Homo sapiens: one gene and its partner. The protein of the gene in region 2 purifies or fractionates together with the protein of the main gene of each other region. This does not show direct contact. Each region holds a gene or a part of one and is shown on either strand. Other genes may lie near its edges.

What was found.
Region 1: the proteins of PDYN (region 2) and ACAD11 purify together in Homo sapiens (affinity purification with mass spectrometry; 3 studies listed by BioGRID and IntAct, with this or other methods). This does not show direct contact.

What each region holds. Positions count from the first base shown.
Region 1 is NC_000003.12:132,562,010-132,565,838, forward strand, and holds part of ACAD11 (acyl-CoA dehydrogenase family member 11), read right to left. Parts: intron 1-3,829. UniProt on the Homo sapiens protein: Acyl-CoA dehydrogenase, that exhibits maximal activity towards saturated C22-CoA.
Region 2 is NC_000020.11:1,978,072-1,981,300, reverse strand, and holds the end of PDYN (proenkephalin-B preproprotein), read left to right. Parts: intron 1-342; coding exon 343-978; 3' UTR 979-2,542; downstream 2,543-3,229.

The DNA of each region.
Region 1 (3,829 bases), on a different chromosome or scaffold from region 2:
CTTTTTATTGCTGAGTAGTATTCCATTGTAAGTATGTATCAGTTGGTTTATCCATTTGCCTGTTGAAGGACATTTCGGTTGTTGCCAGTTTTTAAATTTTATTTATTTATTTTTTGAGACAGACTGGCTCTGTCGCCCAGGCTGGAGTGCAGTGGCGCCATCTCAGATCACTGCAACCTCCACCTTCTGGGTTCAAGCGATTCTCCTGCCTCAGCCTCTGAGTAGCTGGGACTACAGGCGCCCATCACCATGCCTGGCTAATTTTTGTATTTTTTAGTAGAGACAGGGTTTCACCATATTGGCCAGGCTGGTCTTGAACTCCTGACCTTGTGATCTGCCTGCCTCGGCCTCCCAAAGTGCTGGGATTACAGGCGTGAGCCATCGCGAGATTATTCATAGAGTTTCTGTGTATTTGTATACGGGTTTTTGTGTGGACATGTTTTCATTTTTTAAAGCAGATAGCAGGAGTAGAATTGTTGGGTCAGTGGTAAATGTTTATTAAGAAGCTGACAGTTTTCTAGAGTGGTTGTACATTTTGCATTCCTACTAGCAGTGTATGAGAGTTCCAGTTGCTCCTCAAACCATCAGCACTTAGTATCATATTTTATTTTAGTCATTTTAAGTGTGCAGAGATATCATGGTTTTAATTTGCATTTCTGTAATGGCTACTGCTGTTGATCCCCTTCAATGTACTGATTTGCCATCTCTATACCTCTTTGGTGATATGTCTGTTAAAGTCTTTTGTCCATTTTTTAATTGGGTTGTTTTCTTACTATTTGATTTAGAGAGTCCTTCATATATTCAGGACGCTAGTCATTTGCCACATGAGAAATCTGTCAATTCTTTCTTTTATGAGCCTTGCTTTTGGTGCATGTTTAGGAACATTTTACCTAATCCCAGAAAATGATTTTTCCACTATGTTTTCTTCTAAAAGTTTACAGCTTTACCTTTTACATTTAGATCTATGATCCATTTAGAGTTAAAATTTTGTGTGAGGTGTGTGGTTTAGATCAAGGGTCCCTCTTTTGCCTATCTATGTCCAATTGCTGCAACACCATTTACTGTAAAGATGTAACCTTTTCCATTGAACTGCCTTTGCACCTATGTAAAAAATTAATTGGCCTATATTTCTATGAATCTATTCCTGGACTCTCTCTTCTGCTCCAAAGATCTACATGCCTTTTGCTCACTGATTACTGTAGTTTAGAGTAAGTCTTAAGATTAGGTAGTGTGATTCACTGAGCTTTCTTCTTTTTCAAATTGTTTTGGCTACTTTAGTGTTTTTGTATTTCCATATAAATTTTAGGATCAGTCTGTCTTTATCTACAAAATTGTCCTTTTGGGACTGTGATTGGAACTGCCTTAAGTCTGCAGATCAATTTGAGGATGGTTAACATCTTTAATCTGTTAGTCTTCTAATCTACATATTTACTTAGGTCTCCTTTGATTTATTATATCACTTTTTTCTACTTTTTAGTGCATGTGGATATTGTACGTGTTTTGGTAGAGTAGTACTTAAAAAAAACTGTTGTAAATGGTATTTTAAAACTTTCAGTTCCCCCATTGTTCATTGCTTGTATATAAAAATAAAATTGTTACGTACTGACCTTGTATCCTGTGACTTTGCTAAACTCACTTATTAGTTCTGGGAGGGTTGTTTCGTTTTGTTTGATACGTTCCTTAGGATTTTCTATACAATCACATTGTCATCTACAAGCAGGCCCAGTTTTACTTCTTTTTTCCCCCAACTACATGCACTTTTTTTCTCTTGTTTTACTGCACTGCCTAGGAATTCTTCTATGATCATAAATTGGAATAGTGAGGGTGAACATTCTTGCCTCATTTCCAGTTTTGGGGGAAAAGCATTTAGTCTTTCATCATTAAGTATGATGTTAGATTTTTAAAAATACTCTCTATAAAGTTGAGTAAATTCCTTTGTATTCCCAGTTTGCTGAAAGTTTCTATCATAAACAGATGCTGAATTTTGTCAAATGCCAAAGCATCAATTGATATGATCATGTGATTTTTTTAATGTTCATGCAGTTTTTGCTGTTAGTTTGGCAGATTATAATAATTTATTTTTAATTATCGAGTTATAGACATGAATCAGGCTTGCATTTGTGGGATAAACCCTACTTGATTATGCTGTATGATTATTTTTACATACTGCCAGATTCTATTCGGTAATACTTTGCTGGTGGTTTTTGCATCTATATTGGTCTATGGTTTGTTCTTGTCTGGTTTTGGATTAGGATGATTCTGGCCTCATAAAATGAGTTGACAAGTGTTTCCTCCTTCTCTATTTCTGGAATAGATATGTAAAATTGGTGTTACTTCTTCTCTAACTGTTTAGTAGAATTTACCAGTAATACCATCTGGGCCTGAAGATTTCTTTTTTCAGCAGCTTTTTAACTTTGAATTCAACTTCTAACAATAGTTGTAGAACTATTCAGGTTATCTACTTCATCTTCGGTGAGTTTTGATAGTTCATGGGATTTGAGGAATTGGTCTACTTCATCTAAATTGTTAACTTTATGTGCTTTGTACACATACTAGAGCGTGTGGGTCCCAAGTCCTAGATCTGGAATGGAGGAGACTCTACTTCAGCCTTGGCTCCAGACCCCATTCTCCAATCCATGTTTTCCCAGAGAGCTCTGCATTGTGGCTTACAGACAGCCTACACAGACTAAGAAAATAAGTATGTCTGATATCCTCTGCTTCTAACAAGGATGGAATCGATATATTTTTCTCTATTCCTTCTGTTAAGTACAACTAATAACCCTGGGCATTATCTATAAAACAAACATAAGAAGACTCTGAAAGGTAGAGAAAAGGCAGACTATTTAGGGACTTCAGGTCCAAAAGAATAACCTAGTGGTGTGTTTCCTAGGTTTTCTTTTTGCCTCATATATCTCAGCTGCTGAGGTTCTTCCCGGCAGCTGAAGAATCTAGTAACCTGGAAATGTCAGTGAGCACAGACCAAAACAAAACAAAAACATAAAGCACCCCAACAAAAGTATAATCTCTCTAACCAAAGGATCAGGAAAGATGCAGCCTAGCAAGCCAAAAATCTTTTAGAGAATAACCACTTTACTCCAGCCAAACACCACAGAAAAAACATTGGCCCCCACCACTCCTCACACCAGCAAAGGCAGGATGGGGAGCGTAGGCTTCCACCCTGGCAAGCACTGTAATGAGGTGCCCCAGCTCCCCTGCCAGGAAGGTATCAGACAGTGCCAAGTAAAAACCTGAGGCTTTCCTCCCCACTGGCCAGTAATAAGTCCCCCCAACCCATCTTATGGGTTGTTAGTGCAGTCCAAATGGGATGCCTGGACTTTCATCCCACCTGGCAGTATGAGGGCATCATCCTCTTCAGGTACTGATGGAAGCTGGGAGGGGAACCTGGACTTCTCTCTCTGCCTAGCAGTAATGAGGTGATGCCACTCCTTTCTCTGACAGAATGGTGTCAAAGAAAGCCAAGAAGGTTTAAAAAGGTCCAGAGTCTCACAGTATAAAACTGTTCAGGTTTCAATTTTATAAATCACCCATAATACCAAAAACCTGGAACAATTCAAAATTAATTTTTAAAAAATAAAGAGACACCGTGATATAGTTTGGATGCTTGTCTCCTCCAAATCGCATATTGAAACATGAAGGTGGAACCTAGTGGGAGGGTCATGGGGGAATATCCCTCATAAATGGTTTTATGCCTTCTCTTCAGTAATGAGTTCACATGAGATCTGATTGTTTAAAAGAGTCTGGGATGTCCCCCCTTATCTCTCGTTCCCTCTGTTGCCACGTGATGTGCTGGCTCCCCCTTTACCTTCCA
Region 2 (3,229 bases):
TTTAGTGGAGATGGGGTTTCCTGTCTGGGAGTCAGACGTGGAGGGGGAAAGGTGAGCACGCAGAACACTACGGGAAGATCTTACTTCCAATTCTGGCAATTGCCACCTGCAGCCATGTGTCCTGGGTCTAAAGCCATTTCACCTCTCCAGGTCTGTCTTCTCTTTCTCACAGGCACAAAGTCCCCTACCTTTATGCACCACCAGTAGTATGAACATGGGTAGCCCAGGGCTTAGCAGTGGCGTTCATTTTGGTTTTCTCAGACACTGGACAGGGGAGCCTGGGGCAGACCAGTGCATGTGTTTTGATCATTTGCCACTGTGGTCTTTTTGGGTCTTTTGCAGATTTGCTCCCTGCAATGCCAGGCTGCCCTGCTGCCCTCTGAGGAATGGGAGAGATGCCAGAGCTTTCTGTCTTTTTTCACCCCCTCCACCCTTGGGCTCAATGACAAGGAGGACTTGGGGAGCAAGTCGGTTGGGGAAGGGCCCTACAGTGAGCTGGCCAAGCTCTCTGGGTCATTCCTGAAGGAGCTGGAGAAAAGCAAGTTTCTCCCAAGTATCTCAACAAAGGAGAACACTCTGAGCAAGAGCCTGGAGGAGAAGCTCAGGGGTCTCTCTGACGGGTTTAGGGAGGGAGCAGAGTCTGAGCTGATGAGGGATGCCCAGCTGAACGATGGTGCCATGGAGACTGGCACACTCTATCTCGCTGAGGAGGACCCCAAGGAGCAGGTCAAACGCTATGGGGGCTTTTTGCGCAAATACCCCAAGAGGAGCTCAGAGGTGGCTGGGGAGGGGGACGGGGATAGCATGGGCCATGAGGACCTGTACAAACGCTATGGGGGCTTCTTGCGGCGCATTCGTCCCAAGCTCAAGTGGGACAACCAGAAGCGCTATGGCGGTTTTCTCCGGCGCCAGTTCAAGGTGGTGACTCGGTCTCAGGAAGATCCGAATGCTTACTCTGGAGAGCTTTTTGATGCATAAGCACCTCTTTTCATGGAGTAGAGTCAGGAGAAACCCCTGACACCTTTTCAGGTTGGAGTGCATTCATTCATCCTCTTATATGTGCCCCTTCCCCATGCTCAGCTCAGCATTGTGTACAAAATATCCAAGCCCAGCCTATCTCTCTTCTGCGTGGGAGTATGTTATTTCTCTGGGGTCTGTGATGGGGAAGGGTGGATGTCCCTTCCCCACAATAGGCTTAGTGCTTGGCTCAGACACCTAGACTCTAAAACTATCAGCAGCGGCAGCAGCAGCAGCAGCAGCAGTTTGTGATCTGTCCTTCCAACCTGTTCACGTGACTCCTCAATTCCAGGGAACCAGAGCGATGTGTTCTTTGTACCTGTAGGTCTATGATGTCCAAACTTAACAGATCACATGCCCCTCTTAGAAGAAATATGAGCATGCTCCCTCATGCAGATAGTATACACATCATAAACAAAGAGTAGAACTTTAAAAGAAGGTAAATAATCATACACAGAAATCCTAACATTATATTCCCAAATCTCAAAAGATCTCCTGTGCACCTGACTTTGGAGACGATGCTTTAGGTAAAAAGCTTAAACATTGCCTTATATTGGATCAGGAACCCTTACAGTAGAGGGTCCAGTCTTCTAGTGGGTTTAATGTTTAGTCAGTGTACTCTGAGTCCTCATTGTTCAGAAAAGCACCTCTTGAAGAACTGACTTCCTGAACTCCCAGTCATGTTGGTACCCTGGACAGTGCCTAACTCCTTACAGAAGGGAGTGAAAACCTCTTTCGGAAATGATTGAGAGCAGCCTCTTGAATGCTTAAATGATCAAGGAGGGAGAAAGGCAAACCAATTTGTTCTGTGCAACAAACTCAAAATGTGGACCAGTTCCCTCAGCCCTCATTAAACTAATTAAACTGATGGGTATCATGCTTCTACTCCATGGTGAACTGAAGCAGAGTCAAGCTGATGAAGTTAAGCACAACCATGTTCTTGAGCAGCTGAATTGGCTGCCAAGAGTCCAAGCCATCTGGCCCAACATACGCACTGGGCATTGGGTAAGGGACTCCAGAAGCAGCAGCTAGAAAGAGAAAAAGCCCTCTTCAATCCCCATAATGCTTCTTTCCTCTTAATGTCTCAAAATAAAACCAGAAAGAGGAATAAAATGATTAAGTGCTTGAGGCCAAATGAGTTCCCTTGATTCAAATAACCCTGAATCAGAGGCAGAGACCTCCTGATGTCTTGGTTTCCATCAAAGCCCTCCCTGTCTGTCTGTCTCTCTTTTGCTCTCTCATTCCCAGGCACTCTCTTTTGGTTTGTGGGTCCAGGAGATGAGGCTGGATAGGAGAGGAAAAGGCTTGAGTCTGGATAATTTGTATAAGATGCTGCTGAGCACATCTCTTCATGCGCAGTCCCCAGGTATCTGATGATGTTCTGAAATGGATAGATTGTTTTAGAGTTATTTTGTGTCCTTTAAAAAAATCCCATTTATGCAATTTACTTGGAATTTGCTTAGCCTTTAATAGGCTTGTGTAATTTCCTGCTCCTCCAGTACAATAAATAAAAGAAAGATGCTGATGACTTGGTGGGTGTGTGTGTACGTGCACGTGCACATGTGTGTGAGCCTCAGTCCTCAGAGAGAAAAAAAATTTGCAGAAAAGAGTGCTAGGGAATAAAGAAGAGTTACACACACACACACACACACACACACACACATATTCAGGTTGGAAAACCAAGTGTGGGATAACAGAAAGAGCAAAAACTGTGAAGTGTCACAGCTTTAAATTGGAACATTGGATCTGTGCGACCTTGAGTAAGCCATTTGGCTTCTCTCAGCCTTAGTTCCTGCCTCCATAAAATAAAGACTAATAGTGCCAATTTTGTAGAGTTGCTGTGAGGATTAGAGGAGCTCATATATGCAAAGATCCTGGTACACAGTAGGTGCTCAGTAAATGAGTTTTTTTTCCTACATTGTCTTAAGGGATGGTGACAAAGCTTGAGCATTAAGCAACACAATGAGGAGAGTGGGGAGAGGTGCTGCAGAGGGAGTCTGCATCCCACATAATTCCCATGGGCTGTTTTCTATGCTAGATGACCAGGACAGGAGATAGAGACATGTTCCCAGACAAGGATGAGTGAGTTAGGGATGGAGGATGCTGTAGCCATGGGTGGCATAATGTCCTTTACTAAAATGACATTTTGCATTAAATGTTGTTGATGAGATGTCTTTAAATAGGATGAATGTGAGATTTAATGGCTACAGAC